Linked DNA regions of Homo sapiens: region 2 is linked to region 1. A link means that fine-mapping ties the variant in region 1 to the expression of a gene that starts in the linked region. Tissue or cell type: whole blood. Region 1 holds a variant in brackets; the other region holds the start of a gene. All regions are shown on one strand. Distances are from middle to middle.

Region 1 (8,180 bases):
CTTCAGAGCATGGAGATAGGAATGCTGACTCTATCTCCTTTGTCCTCTCAAAGGGCTTCAAGCCTATTCTCAATGTCAGGTCAAATGACTCATCTCTCCAGAAAAAGTTTGAGGACAGAAAAATTACAAAGGAAACATGTTCTTGGAGAGTATAGTTTTTCTTTTGTTCTCTGGAAAATAATGTTAGTGAGAGTTGGAAGGATCTCCTAAAACAACAAAATGGAAATATGATAGAAGCAGAACCCCTGCCCCACATGGTGCCTGTCTCTCACATCACTGTAACCTTAAAAACTGTGTAGGGGCCAGCCCCACAGGGTTGGTGGGTTTCTCCCCATGTGCAGAGACAAGAGAACGTAGAAATAAAGACGCAAGACAAAGAGGTAAAAGAAAAGACAGCTGGGCCCAGGGGACCACTACCACCAAGACGCGGAGACCGGTAGTGGCCCTGAATGTCTGGCTGCGCAGTTATTTATTGGATACAAAGCAAAAGGGGCAGGGTAAAGAGTGTGAGTCATCTCCAATGATAGATAAGGTCACGTGGGTCACATGTCCACTGGACAGGGGTCCCTTCCCTGCCTGGCAGCCAAGGCAGAGAGACAGAGGGAGAGAGAGAGAGACAGCTGACACCATTATTTCTGCATATCAGAGACTTTTAGTACTTTCACTAATTTTGCTACTGTTATCTAAAAGGCAGAGCCAGGTGTACAGGATGGAACATGAAAACGGACTAGGAGCGTGACCACTGAGGCACAGCATCACAGGGAGACGGTTAGGCCTCCAGATAACTGCGGGCGGGCCTGACTGATGTCAGGCCCTCCACAAGAGGTGGAGGAGTAGAGTCTTCTCTAAACTCCCCCGGCGAAAGGGAGACTCCCTTTCCTGGTCTGCTAAGTAGTGGGTGTTTTTCCTTGACACTGACGCTACCGCTAGACCACAGTCCACTTGGCAAAGGGAGTCTTTCCAGACACTGGCATCACCACTAGACCAAGGAGCCCTCTGGTGGCCCTGTCTGGGCATAGCAGAAGCCTCGCACTCTTCTGGTCACTTCTCACTGTGTCCCCTCAGCTCCTATCTCTGTATGGCCTGGTTTTTCTTAGGTTATGATTGTAGAGCAAGGATTATTATAATATTGGAATAAAGAATAATTACTACAAACTAATGATTAATGATATTCATATATAATCATATCTAAGATATATATCTAGTATAACTATTCTTATTTTATATATATTATCATATATATAATATATATTATAATATAATATAGTATAGTATATTTTATATATTATACTGGAACAGCTCGTGCCCTTGGTCTCTTGCCTCAGCACCTGGGTGGCTTGCCGCCCACAAACTGCTCACTGTTCAATTACCATTTTCAGAATGCTTTTTATGTTTGTTTGATGAATTCATAAAAGTCTCTAATGTGAAATAAGCCAAGCACAGAAAGACAAATAATGCATGTTTGGCCGGGTGTGGTGGCTCACGCCTGTAATCCTGACACTTTGGGAGGCCGAGGCGGGCAGATCCCCTGAGGTCAGGAGTTTGAGACCACCCTGGCCAACATGGTGAAACCTCGTCTCTACTAAAAATACAAAAACAATTAGACAGGCGTGGTGGCAGGCGCCTGTAATTCTAGCCACTTGGGAGGCTGAGGCAAGAGAATTGTTTGAACCAGGGAGGCAGAGGTTGCAGTGAACCGAGATCGTGCCATTGTAATCCAGCCTGAGCAAGAGAGCAAGACTTGGTCTCAAAAGAAAAAAAAAAAGATAAATAACACATGTTCTCTCATAGGTCAGTACTAAAAGAGTTGCTCTCATAGAAGTAAACAGAACAGTGGTTACTAGAGGCTGGGAAGGGAAAGGCTGTAAAAGGGATAGGGAGAGGTTGGTTAAAGAATACAAAATTACAGCTAGATAGGAGGAATAAGTTCTAGGGTTCTATAGTTCTGGAGGGTGACTATAGTTAGCAATAATTCATTGTATATTTTCAAAAAGTGAGAAGAAAAGATTTTAATGATCTTAACATAAAGAAATGATCAATGTTTAAGGTGATAGATATGCTAATTACCCTGATCTAATCATTACACATTATATACATGTATCAAAATCTCACCCTGCACATACACCATGGAATACCATGCAGCCATAAAATGAACAAGATTATGCCTTTTGCAGGAACATAGATGGAGCTGGAGACCATTGTCCTTAGCAAACTAATGCAGGAACAGAAAAATAAATACTGCACGTTCTCACTTATAAGTGGGAGCTAAATGATGAGAACTCATGGACTCAAAGAGAGGAACAACAGACACTGGGACCTACCTGAGAGTGGAGGGTGGGAGGAGAGAGAGGACCAGAAAGATGAAGAAGCAGGTATAAGCCAAATGTTGAGAGTTAGAGAATGCCAGCCTGCAGTTGTCATCACCCAGGCTTAGTACCTGGGTGATGAAATAATCTGTACAACAAACCCTCATGACACGAGTTTACCTATATAACAAATCTGCACATGTAACCCTGAGGCTAAATAAAAGTTTTTTAAAATCTCACTCTGTACTGCATAAACATGTATGAATATTATGTGTGAATTAAACGTTTTTAACATCCTTTAACAAGGTATCATATATATGTTAACCTTGACTTTCAAACCAAAATTAGTGTGTATAAAATTTCAAAAGTCTTTGATAAATTCCTCAGGATTTTAAGCTGCATGGTTATTAAATGAGATTCAGAGGCCGTTCTCAAGAAATCACACAAAAGATGGGAAAAAGGTAAATTGGGATAAAGCAAAGATGCCTGTGTAGAGATGGGGATTTCTGTGATAGAAGTGGAGAGAGTAGCGCTGCCATCAAGGTGGGGTTAGGATTGGAGAGGATTAGTGTCAGTGGGTTGGGTGGCACTGGGGCGAGAGACCTCAGGAGTCAGGAGGGATGAGATCATCAAGAAGGGGAGACACCTGCGTTCAAAATCCTCACTCTGTAAACATATTAGACCAGTCTTTCTAGTTCTAAGTTTGTACGATTATCAGATTTATTTATTTTGAGATGGAGTCTCACTCTGTTGCCCAGGCTGGAGTGCAGTAGTGGTGCGATCTCGGCTCACTGCAACCTCTGCCTCCCGGGTTCAAGTGATTCTCCTGCCTCAGCCTCCTGAGTAGCTGGGATTACAGGCGCATGCCACCACGCCTGGCTAATTTTTGTATTTTTAGTAGAGACGGGGTTTCACCATGTTGGTCAGGCTGGTCTCGAACTCCTGACCTCGTGATCCACCCGCCTCGGCCTCTCAAAATGCTGAGATTACAAGTGTGAGCCACCATGCCCGGCTGATTATCAAATTTATTTACTGATCTACTAATCATCATGGTACAAGTAATTCAAAATGAAAATATCATCTATTAACAAATTGTTTTGTGAAACCAAAAAAAAGGGGGGGGTGGTCAGGGGGAGACACTGGGTCTAGGTGCAGCTCACAGGATTAGAGGTAGCTAGAGTTATGACATTGGCAGGAACAGGGCTCTCATGGTCAGTGGAATGGGGCAGAGTCATTGCAAGTGGGAAACAGAGACATGGGAGTTGGGGATCACTTCAGTAGATTTAGGGATGTTCCAGTCAGTTAAAGCAGAGAACCAAGTACAGTGGGAAAGAAGGAGTCACAAGGCCTGTAGAAAAGGGAAGCAGGGTGATGGATTCTAGAACAACATCAAATCACATGAATAAGTTGTGAGTTACTTACATGTGGAATCTAAATTTGAAATCATAGAAGTAGAAAGTAGAATGTTTGTGGTCAGGTGCGGTGGCTCATGCCAGTAATCCCAGAACTTTGGGAGGTTGAGGCAGGCGGATCACATGAGGTCAGGAGTTGTAGACCAGCCTGGGCAGCACAGTGAAGCCCCATCTCTACTGAAAATACAAAAATTAGCCGGGTGTTGTGGCGGGCGCCTGTAATCCCAGCTACTCAGGAGGCTGAGACAGGAGAATCACTTGAACCTGGGAGGCAGAGGTTGCAGTGAGCTGAGATAGCTCTACTGCACTCCAGCTTGGGCGGCACATGGAGACTGTCTCAAAAACATAAAAAAATAAAAAGAAAAAAGAAGGAAAGTAGAATGTTTGTTACCAGAAGCTGGGATGGTGGGTGGGGGAAAGCAGAAGTGTAGGTCAAAGGGTACAAAGAGAGAGAGGAAGCAAGAAGAAGGTAATTCAAGATGAAGAAGCAGGTATAAGCCAAGTGTTGAGAGTTAGAAAATGCCAGCCTGTGAAAGCCAGGCTGTTAGTTGTGCGAAGGGCCTCCACTATTTACTACATGTATGACCTTGGATGAGTTAGTTAACCTGTCTCTGCTTCATTTCCTTCATACATAAAATGGTGCAACCTCAGTGAAGTGTTAAGAATAACGTGAAACAATACATATGCCTGAAACATGGTACACGTGCCAATAATGTTAGGTAGTAGCAATGCCAACAACAGCAGAAGCAGCAATAACCGCAGCAAAAGTCACGTTAATAGAAGTAATTATAGCATTTATTAACATTATTATTGCTATTATACTGAAATGTAGTTGTGGCTACACTCCATCTTAATTGTTAAGGTCCTGAAGAAGAGGGTCCAAGTTCTTTTTTTTTTTTTTTTTTTTT[G/TG]AGATACAGTCTTGCTCTGTCGCCCAGGCTGGAGTGCAGTGGTGCAATCTCGGCTCACTGCAACCTCTCAGGCTCAAGCGATTCTCCTGCCTCAGCCTCCCGAGTGGCTGGGATTACAGGCACCTGCCACCACTCCCAGATAATTTTTATACTTTTTAGTAGAGAGGAGGTTTTGCCATGTTGGCCAGGCTGGTCTCAAACTCCTGACCTCAGGCGATCTGCCTGCCTCAGCCTCCCAAAGTGCTGGGATTACAGGTGTGAGCCACCACGCTGGGCCAGTCCAAGTTCTTTATTTTGACTGAAACAGTGTTTATAAATGTGCTTTCCTTATTGTTTCCTGTATCTATAGTTTATTTTCTCTGAATAGGATTTTTAAAATACAATAGAATTAAAATGTAAACCTCAAAAAAGGGGTGAGGAATGGAGGGAAGATATGTGAGTAGGCCAGGACAGAATGAGAGCGTCGTTGTGGGTTCCTGAGGCAACAGTTATCCAATGTCATTGTTATTTTTAATGAAATTCAAGGAATTTGCATTTATTCCAAATTGGAAAAGATGTGAACCAGGAACAACCTGCCTGACAGTTTATGTATCTTTGGCGATTTTCCTTTGAACCATGGGAAAAATCATGTTTATCTTGTAGTTTACATTGTAATTCTCATCCACTCCTCTGTGAAGACGTGGAACTGTGCCACCCAGAACCTCCTGCAAGAGAAGACTTGCTGCCCAACTGAGGGGAATGAAGTAAGCAGCCAGGCTTCAGCTGTCAGATCTTCCCAATCTGCCTCAATTGCAGGGAGCCCCTTCACCTGAGGTAATGCCCTTCCTGGGGTAGCCTGTATCCAGAGGCTGAGACAGAAAAGAAAGACCCAGCCATTGTAGCCTGACACAGGATGCTTTGTTGGTCTTCACTCTACAGAGCTCTCCACCAGGTTCAGGGAAGGTTTGTAAGGCCTGCATCACGGCTCAATGTCTTTCTCTGCCAAATCCTACTTTTGCCCCTTTTCTTCACAGGCGTTGATCCCTAATAAACATCTTGCCCTCCACACTGTTCTACCGTCTGCTCTTGGGGAAATCAACCTGCAACCTACTTCAAGGCATTGGTAGATATTGCTATGTCAAGATAGATTTGGACAATGGGGTGATGGATACTAAAGAGGTAGTGCAAAAAGAAAATGAGGGGCATACAACATTCTCCTCTTCCCAACACCTGTATGAAGAAAGCAGCATCCTTTTGAGGAGTGAGAGAATACAGATCTTTCAGAAGTGAGCAGCAGGCAGGAAAGTGGCCTACAGCCCTGTTGAGAGCAGCAGAGAGGAGCATGAGACATAGCTGCCAGATGGGAAATTCATTAGTAAGTGATCATTAGAAAACAGGAAACTGGTGGATGAAAATAAAAGAAGTAAAACTGATAAGCAAGTAAGAACAGATATTTCTTCTACGTGGCTTTCGAATTGGGGGTAGGAGGGGTGGAGTCAAGGAATGAAGCCTAGGCCTTGCAAATGCATCCCTTAGGAAAAGTGAAATGGAAGTAACGGTTACATCAAGCCAAAACAAGGAGCTTTGACTTGGTCCCACATGCTGCGATCTAGAATTGTTCCTGGCACAGCTAAAGCTTTATCATCCTATGTAATGGGGAGGCACCTATGGATGCAAGTAGAGATTACCCCCTTATATCAACCACATTAAATCCATAAAGTTTCCCCAAAGCCTTTCCTGCCTCAGCATCTAACTTCCTTCTTCTGAGTCTCTGGAGTCCCAGCGCGGCAGGAAAATGGAAATCATAATATAGCGTTCATAGATACAGAATGGCAGCGTCAGGAGCAACTACAGTTCTTAGTAAGAGCATCACAGACCCTCTCAGCCATGAATTAACTTGCTCTTTTTCTACCTCCCTTTGTAACTATAGCTACCCTTCTTAGGGCCTCCCATCTTTTTTCTGAGGCCCTAGTTTGGTTTCTGGCTGAAACTACATGGGAGTTGCAGGCACTTCTCTCACCACCAGATGGTGATAAAGAGCCTATCAGGATAATGAATTCTGAGATTTCCCAACTCCGGCATAGTTAACATTTAGAGCCAGATAATTTATTGTGGGAAACTCTCTGTGCGTTATAAGATGTCTAGTAGCACCTCTGGCCTCTATCCATTAAATGTGAGTAGCACTATTCACAGTTATGGCAACAAAAATGTCTCTAGACATTGTCAAATGTCCCTGAAACATTTGCATTGCCCCGGTGGAGAACCACTGTGAAATGAGGTGTTCAAGAGTTTTAAATAGGAGAAAGAAAATGAATGCAATTTTGATGAAATTTTTGAAAAGCTTTCTTATTTTTTACAATATTACATTTATTGAAAAAATTCAAAAATGTGGAAAAACATAAGAAAATCAGACACCCAAAATCCTGTCATCCAGATTAACTTTGGTGAACATTTTTATACTCATCCTTCTAGGCATATGGACACATAGTGGAAAACATACAATTTTGCATACATGGCAATGTATAATATATATACTCCAAAATTTCACTCATAAATGGCACTGCAGTTAACATACATCTTTGAACATAATTTTTTTTTTTGAGATGGAGTCTCACTCTGTCACACAGGCTGGAGTGCAGTGGCGCAATCTCGGCTCACTGCAACCTCTGCCTCCTGGGTTCAGGCGATTCTCCTGCCTCAGCCTCCCAAGTAGCTGGGATTACAGGTCCATGCCACTATGCCCAGCTAATTTTTGTATTTTTACTAGAGACGGGGTTTTGCCATGTTGGCCAGGCTGGTCTCGAACTCCTGACCTCAGGTGATCTGCCCACCTCAGCCTCCCAAAGTGCTGGGATTACAGGCATGAGCCACCATGCCCAGCCTGAACATACATCTTTGCACAGGTTGAGTGTGACAGTTTTTCACTCCACATTTCCTATATATCTACAATTTTGCCACGACAGGACCCAGAGCTTTACAAAGTAATTTGGACATAGATATTCTTCCAAAGATGTACAAAAACTGCTGGAAAGAATGTGAACATTCCCAGTGCAGTGGCTCATGCTGTCTCTACTAAAAATACAAAAATTAGCCAGGCATGGTGGCGGGTGCCTGTAATCCCAGCTACTCAGGAGGCTGAGGCAGGAGAATCACTTGAACCGGGAGGTGCAGGTTGCAGTGAGCTGAGATCGCACCACTGCACTCCAGCCTGGGCAACAGAGCAAGACTCCATCTCAAAAAAAAATTGTGAATAGAAGATAGAATAAATATAATTCGTGACATGGAAATGCAAGGTGGAAATTTTGGCAAAAATTGAGAGATAACTGATTAGATGTCAGGGATATCTTCACAGACATGGGCCTAGATATAAGCAGTATAAATGTTAGTCTCAGCCAGTTGTCGTGGCTCACACCTGCAATCCCAGCACTTTGGGAGGTCAAGGCAGGTGGCTCACTTGAGGTCAGGAGTTCAAGACAACCCTGGCCAACATGGTGAAACCCCATCTAGAAAAAAAAAGAAAAAAGTATCAGCTCCTTTTTCTTCAACTACAGTACTTCGAAAATTATTTGTTTAAA
Region 2 (8,180 bases), 53 kb after region 1:
TTAGTCATGTCTTAATTTTTGTATCTTAACTATAAAGTTGCACATAGCAGGCACCTAAATGTATCTTCAATAAATGAAGGAAGCAAGAAAATAAATGAATTTGGATTCTTCTATTTGAAAAACTTCCTGACCCCCTAAAACTCCTATCCCTTACGCCAGTTATAGGTCTCTCTCCTCCCCTGTAGTTAGGCCTCCTTAAAGAATAAGCTCTACTCCAAGTCTTCAGTTCCTCACCTTCCACTCACTCCTTAGTTACTGAGTGCTAATTAGCCTTCATCCTTACCACTCCACCTACCACATTGTCCCCAAGGTCACCAGCCTGCCCCCTAGGCCCCAGCCAAATCCAATGGATACTTTTCAGTCCTTACCTCACTGGCCTCCTCTGTGTCATTCCAACCTAATGACCTCTCCTCACTTCATGGCTTCTTCTGTGGCCATTCCCTGGGCTTCAGTGGCACCACTCACCTCCCTTTCTTTCTCCTCCCTGTCTGGCCACATCCTCTCACTTTCCTTTGAGGGCTCCTCCTCTTCTCAACCTTTACATGTTGGAGCTTCTCAGCATCTGTCCTAGACCTTCTTTTCTTCCTAATGTACATGCTCTCCCTCTGTAATCTCATTCACTCCCTTACCTTCACTTACCATCTGTCACACTTACTATACAATACAGCTTACTGTATACAAAGCAACACAAATTGGGTTGTTGAGGACATTTCAGGTTAATGGGTCTTGCCCAAACAGTAATTTTTCATTTTTCCCAGTGAGAAGATCCAAAAAGCTTTTCAACCAACCTAGAAATGTAAACCTTTAAGGATGAGGATGAAACAATCAAAAGTGTACTTCTATGAGTTAATGGACTTTATTGGACATATATTTAAATTCATATATCATATAAAAATATATAACTGATAAATATTGTCTTTTCCATTCTCATAAATTATGAAGCAATTTTATGCATACTCAACACAAGCAGTGTCTTTCTCATCATTAGGATCACTTTTTCAGCCATCTTACATGTTTTCCCAGAACAGATGTCCTTCTCTTCAGTTTAAGCGAAGGGCTTGGGAGAGGACACAGCACAGTTTGAATTCACAGATGATGCAGTCCTTGGAAACTTTATCCTAAGTCACAAGTTTCCTTTGCATCACACTAGAACAGTTGGTTTTTTGCATGCACCCTGCCTGAGTATATTCATGACTTCAAAACATCACTTAATGTAATACTTTTTAAAAATTATATTTCTGTTAACTTTTTTTACTGAAATATAACATCTATATGGAAAAGGCCACAAGCCATCATAAATATTCAGCTCAATGAACTGTCAGAGTGAAACATCCCTCAGGTCCATATAACCACTCAGGTCAAGAAATAGAACATTTTCGGCAGCCCAGAAACCTCTTCCAAGTACTACTGTATTGCTTTTTAAAGCAATCTTTAAAAAGCATATTTTGAGACATCCAACACATGCGATTATGAGGTCATACTACCAGGAATAGTTACCAAAGCTGTGTTAAATTTCTTTGACTACAATACATCCAAAATAGCATTGTTGAGGACATTTCAGGTCAATGGGTCTTAGCCAAACAGTAAAAATAGTTAGCATTTATTGGACACTTACCATATAGTGCCAGGTATATAGTGCTTTATATATATTACATAATTTAATCCTTAGGCCCACTTTATAGATGAGAAAACTGAGGCAGAGACAAGTTAAGTAACTTTCCCAGTGCCACACAGCTTGTAAATAGGAGAGTCTGGACCCCGAGCCAGGGAGTCTGGCTCCAGAGTCCACAAGCTTAGTCACCATACCATACTGCCCTATCCAGTGGTTTGTTGTTCAAAATAAAGTAAATGAGAGCAAACCCTGTAATATGAGAGACCTTGTAAGGACTCAAATATAAGGTTACTCCCTCTTTCCTGAGGGATGATTTTGGAAAAACAAAAAAGCAAAAACTTCACCCTATATTCAAGCTTATACGGCATTTGCAGATGACTCCCAAATATTTATGTCCATCCCAGACCGCTCCTCTAAGTTGCAGACCTACCTACCCAACCAGCACTTCAAAGTCAGCAGCCCCAAGTCACAGTCATCATCTCCTCATACGAACCCCCTGCAGCCTCCTGCTGCTCCTTTTGTGGAGCACAGCCAGCCTCACCACCATCCATCCACCCAGCTGCCCAAGCGCCGTGGATATGATCAAGGACCCCAGTCTCTCCCTCACTCCTCTTCCAAAATCACACTCCCTTCTTCTTCAGCTGAAACTGTGTTCCTTCTCCACAGAAGTTCCTGATTTCTTTGTGCCATTTGTACACATCTCAAGTCCAGAAAACCTGTTTTTCTCACAGTCTACTCGCAGTCCTAAGGAAGAAGGACAGGAGTCAGAACTCTTCCCAGTTCCTTTAAGATTGCTTGCTCTTTGTCTCTGTCTGATTTCCCCTCTCCCCATATTCTCTCCCAAGTTGGTTTTTTGAGCCCCTTCCCACTTCCCTGCCCGGTTTCCTCCTCACTTAATTTTTCTAGGGAGTATATCGTGAGTGGGACCACCATCCCCAAAGCTCTTCTTTCCAATATCTCCCGATCTCTACCCTCAAATTTGGGATAAAGAGAAAGTGGGGGAAAGGGAGCCTGGGGGTGAAGGAGAGAAAAGAGACAGAAATCATGGGATAATGAAAAGTGACTAACAGGGGAGAAGGCCGAGGTTACGATGGAAGAAGGGGAAGAGACAGCGGGTAGTGAAAAGGGCAGGGGTGAGAAAAGGGAATGAGGAGAAGGCGTGAGGAAAAGGGGATGATGAGGTGAGGCGAAAGACACAGGGAGAAGGGGATGGGGAGAAAGGTGGGGAGAAGAGACGGGGAGAAAGGGATAGGAAGAAAAGGATAAAAGGAGAGGTGGGGAAGGAGAATCTGATGTAAAGAGGCTGGAGAGAGATCAAGCAGAAGGGGTAAGGAGAAGAGAAAGGGGAGAAGAGCTGGGGAGAAAATGATGGAGATGGGGCGAGAAGAAGAGGATGGGAGAAAGGCAGAGGGGAATGGAGATGACGGTTGGGAAAAAGAAGGGGCGAGAGGGAGACCAGGGCACTGAGGGAGAAGAGGGGAATAGGGGATGGAAAGAAGATGGAAGAGGAGGAGGTGAGCAGCAGGGAGCGGCGAGAAGGGGAAGAGACGAGAGGGCGTAGAGAACCGAATGGGAGGAGAGGACGGGAGAAGTGACGGGGAGAAGGGAAGGGAACCGGGACGGGGGCGCGGCGCGGCGCTGGGGCCGGATCCGGAGCCGGGGCCTGGGGCCGGGAAGTGGAGGGGCGGAGGGAGGCCGGGCGGGCGCCGGGGGGAAGGGGGGGCGGCGGCGCGGAGCGCGGGTGGGGGCGGGGGCGGGGGCTCCGCGGGCGGAGGGGCGGGGGCTCGGGTTACCGCGCGGAGGGCGGGGGGAGGGGAGGGGAGGGGGCGCGGGGCCGCGGCAGCGGAGCTCGCATCCTCGGCGGGGCGGCTGTGCAGGAGGCGGCGCCCGGGCGTCAGCGGACGGACCGATCGACGGCCAAGGGCGCGCGGACCGACGGCGGCTGCCCGGAGGGGATCGCGGGCCTCGGAGACAGCGACTGCGGACGATGCGCGGCCTCAGGCCCCGCGCGAGCGGGCGCTGCCCGGGGGGCTGACCGCGGCCGGACGGCGCCCCAGCACCGGGCGAGGGAGCCCGCGTCGCGCGGAGGTCAGTGCCCGCGCCCGCCCGGCCCGTCTGGCCGCGCCCGCCCTGCCCGCCGGCCTCCCCTGGGCTGCGGCAGCGGCGGCGGAGCCGGGGGCTTTGTTCTGAGCCGGAGACAATGGGGGAGGGGGGGCCTGGGCCTGCGGGACCCGGGCGGGCGTGAACGTGAGCGTGGGGGCAGGGCCTGGGGGTCTTTGTGTGCGTGTGTCATCGAGTCGGGGAGGGTGGCGGCGGGAGCGTGCGCCGGGGGTGTGGGGTGCGACAGCGTTGTGTTCCAGTGCATCGTCGGAGTGTGTCAGTGCGTGTCACTGGGAGGTTGTGTGTCCCTGGGCGTCTCTCTGGCTGTGTGTGCATGTGCGTGTCACTCTGAGGGTGTGAGGGTCAGAATGACCGTGTGTCATGGTGAGCGAGTCCCTGTGAGGGTGTGTTGCCCGCTCTGTGGGAGCCCATGTGTCAGAATGTGGAGGATGGGTGTGTGACAGAGACCAACTGAGACAGAGACAAAGAAACTGAGTGGGGAGAAGTACAGAGAAGCAGAGGAGAGGCAGGCACAGCCTGAAGTGGATGGAGGGGGGGGTCACCCAGACGTGTTCTGAGTGGGAGATTGGAGCAACTGGGAGTTTGTGTCTGGGATACCCAGCTCAGAATCCCGTGCAGGGGACAGAGCAAGGTCACCGCAGGCGTGGGTCCCACGTGGAGGGGGTGGGGAGAGGGAGGTCTAGAAGCACAATGAACTCAGTGTGGCGGGCTGGGCCCACAGCCACAAGGTCATAGGCCAGAAAAATATTGTCGCTTATGTCAACTTCTCAAATACCCATAGGGACACAGTCATAGCCCTACTCAACCCACAAGAGGACACAGTCCCAGGGAACACACATCCTCAAGAGATACCCTCACAGCCATCATACACTTCCAGGAAGCCCACCCCCAGGAAGCACCCCCAGTCAGAACCAACACACACCTACAGCAGACTCTATCAAGCCAACACACACCTACGGAAAATGCTCTCATGACAACACACACCCACAGGAGAAATGCTGCAACCAACATACTCCCACCGGTTCATTGTCAAGGCCAACACATACCATGGAAGACATTGTTACTGCTAACACTCTCCAGAAACACTGTCACCAGCAACAAACAAGTAGACCAGCACCTCTCAGGAGACATTGTCACTGCAATCCACATCCATCAGAAGCACTGTCACAACTGTCACAGCACATCTTATTAGGTTTACTTCCTTGGAGCTGCCCATACATAGTGGGTGTCCTAGAAGCCTGTCACTAACAGGAGGCTGTGCCACAGTTGCCCTTACCACACAGCCACTTGTACAACCCCCAGGAGACAGTCATGGATGGCATGCACACCACAGGAAGACCTGTCCCAACTTCTGAATAAACTCTGCTTAACTTATCAAGCTCACACCTTCACCCCTTCTCATACGTAGATCTCCCAGGTATACCCTCTTGTTCCCTGAAAACTTCGAGATCTGGATAGTGTATCCTGCCATGGTTTCTCAGTGTCCTTCAACACCACAGCTTCACAGATTCTTGACCTCCTTAGCTCCTGTTACCTTCCTCCCTCCCAGGACCACTCTGTAGAACTATTCCACCTTTAAAATTCTAAACTCTTGCATTCCTCTCTCTACCCACAACCTCCTATATCCTTCCAGCTTTCAGATGTTCTCGCTCCCATTACACTCTTTGACCTCATAATGACCTCTTGCCCTTGACCTCTTTGTTTTCTCCTACTCTGTTCCTTTCTGACTTTGTGCTTTCTTTCCAGCTCATATGCTAAGGATCATCCCTTCAACCACTCCTTGGCCACTGTGTTTCCTTGTCTTCTATACTCATCCCTCAAATTATTGCCCCTAACTAGAATGATTTCTCAACCACACCAGGGGACGCTTCTATAAATTCATACTTCTAAAAAATTCAAACCTCAACTGGGCCCTTCATAAATAAATAGATGATTTTTTTTCTATTTTCTTCACACTCATTACCCCACATCCCTCACACCATTGTTTTCAGTAGATTAATTAATCAAAACGCTAATTCATTCATTTAACAAACACATACTAGGCACCTACTCTGCTAGGCATTGTGATGAGAGTTGGCAGCACAAGTGTGAACAAAATGGACATGGTCCTTATCCTCATGGAGCTTACAGGCTGTGGAGTGAGTGTTGTAACACAGCAGCACACAGCAGAGTAACCTAGGCCAGTGTAGGGAGGTCAGAAGAGTCTTTCTGGAGGAAGTGGCATTTAAACTTAAACTTGATGGAGTGGGTGGAGAATATGCCAAGCCAAGGGAGCAGCATGTAAAAGCCCACATGAAGGAAAATAGTGTGTGTGTGAGGGATAAAGCAGTTCAGTGAGCCTGACACTTACAGCATGAGGTGACGAGAGAGGGAGAGTCTGTGGGAGAGGTAAATGGAGGCTTAGACCATGCAGGGTCTAGGAGGCCACAGAAAGAAATTCATTTAACCCAAGAATAATGGAGAGTCACCAAATCATTGGAAGCTTGGAGCGATATGATCAGATTCATTTTAGAAATACCACTCTGACAGCCATGTGGAGACTGGAGAAAGAGCCTGAGAAGAAGGACAGTTGGCTGTTGCAGAAACTCTGGAGGGTATAACACTGGCCTGAACTGGAGTAGTGGCCGGAGAGAAGGAGAAAGTGGATGGTTTCAAGAGCTCTTTAGGCAGTGGGATCAGCAGGGCTCAGTGACAAAGCAGACATGGTGGGGTGAAGGAAAGGAAGGAATTAAGAGTGGACAACCTGGTCTTCTGGCTCACTGAGGAAATTGAGGCCATCTGTTTTGAATTCCCTCAGATTTCTGCCTCCTCCCTCAAATTTTATCTGCATCCTCTTCAATCTTTTCTCCTTCCTTCCTATAAGAACGAAGTGCTGTCTCTTCTACTTAAGGCCAATCCTCTACCTGTGTTACGGATCCCATCCCCTTCCTCTTCCACAGGGACCTCACTCAACTGATTATTCCATGTGTTTCCCACGTCTCCAGTTCCTTCCTTTCTCCCATTCCTCCTGGGAGGACATAAAGATCCTCCAGCCTCTCCTATCTTTCTTTAACCCTGTAATACCCCGTTAACTAAGAGGCTTCCTCACTTTTCTTCACTGTCACATTTTGTGAAAGAGTCTTCTGCATATAGCTGTTCCTACTTCCTCACTTCCCATTTGTGCCTGCCCCTCAAATGTAACTGCTTTCCCTAGGAGAAAGTAACATCTCTTCTGCTCAATCTGGAGGATCTTTTCAAAAGTCCTTAACTGCCTGACCTCTCGGGAGGAGCTGACATTATTGACCATTCTTTTCTCCTTGAGTTGTTTTTGTTGTTTGGCTTCTGAGCCATGATTTTATTCTATCAACATTTAACAGGCAAATAAGTGGAAAGTTACATTATGGTATGTATCTCTTCTGGAGCTCCTCCTAGCTGTTCTCTCAGTCTGCTTTGAGGGATCCTTTGTATGCCCCCTGAATGTCACTGTTCCTTAAAGTTCTGGCTTGGACCTTCTTATTGTCTCACTGTATACACACCTCTAGGTAATCAATTTCATTCATTTTTCAAGGCTTTTATTAACATCTATAGGCTGATGACTCACAGACATCTCTCTTCTAGGCCACATTTCTGCATACCTGCTGCATGCCTGCTCTTTACTGTATAGCTCACCGACCCCTTATCATGTGCAAACCTGATCTCATCATTCCTTCCTTCCCCAAATGACCATCCCCACTCAGGTTGCAAGCTGGAATCCCAGAAATTAACTGTCACCATTCCCTTCTCCACGTATCCCATAATCCAGAAATCCCTTGGAACGTGTTGGTTCTATCTTCTCTCCAGCAATCTCTGATATCCCATCCCCTTTTCTCCATCACCTCTGCTGTTGCCCTCATCTACCATCTTTTCACATGAATTTTTGCAAGAGCCTCCTAACTTTTCTTTCTACACTTCTCTTCCTTCTTTCAATCCATTCTTTTCATTGGAGTAACAGACACCTTCCTAAAGTACAAATCCAACTATGTCACTCCCTGCTCAGCATTATTCAAATGCCTTCCATTTTCCTTGAACAAAATCTTTTCTTTTTAACAAAGGTTATGAGATCATAGTCTGACCTCCCCAAGCCTCCCAGTCTCATCACCTGCCCCATTTCCCCAGCCCCCTCACGTTTTGAGTTTCAGCCATACTGAATTTCCTGTAGTTCACCAAAGACACTACCTTTTTCCATGCTTCTGACCCTTTGCACATACTGCTCTGCCTGCCTGAAAGGCCCTTCACTCCCTTCCCTCCTGGCTTATCCCTTCCCTTCCTCATATCTGGTCTCAAACCCTGCCTTTAATGACTCCACCGGGCAGGCTTGAACTCTGTGTTTCGTTGTTGTCATTGCCTCTTCCCTGTCTTATCTCCCCAAACCGCGCTGGGACCTCCTTGATGGCAAGAGTGCGTATTACTCATCTTTGTGACTCAGGGT

The links. PIP is the estimated chance that this variant, and not a neighbour inherited with it, causes the effect.
Region 2: DCHS1 starts here. The variant in region 1 is fine-mapped to the expression of DCHS1 in whole blood (INTERVAL, PIP above 0.99).

What each region holds. Positions count from the first base shown.
Region 1 is chr11:6,704,551-6,712,730 of GRCh38, reverse strand. No RefSeq gene overlaps it. Among named protein-coding and RNA genes, the nearest start is that of MRPL17, 25 kb to the right of the region's middle. The variant G/TG (reference allele first, on the strand shown) is at 4,627.
Region 2 is chr11:6,651,083-6,659,262 of GRCh38, reverse strand. It overlaps DCHS1 (dachsous cadherin-related 1), which reads left to right and starts at 3,454. Exons shown (of 21, transcript NM_003737.4): 1 at 3,454-3,700.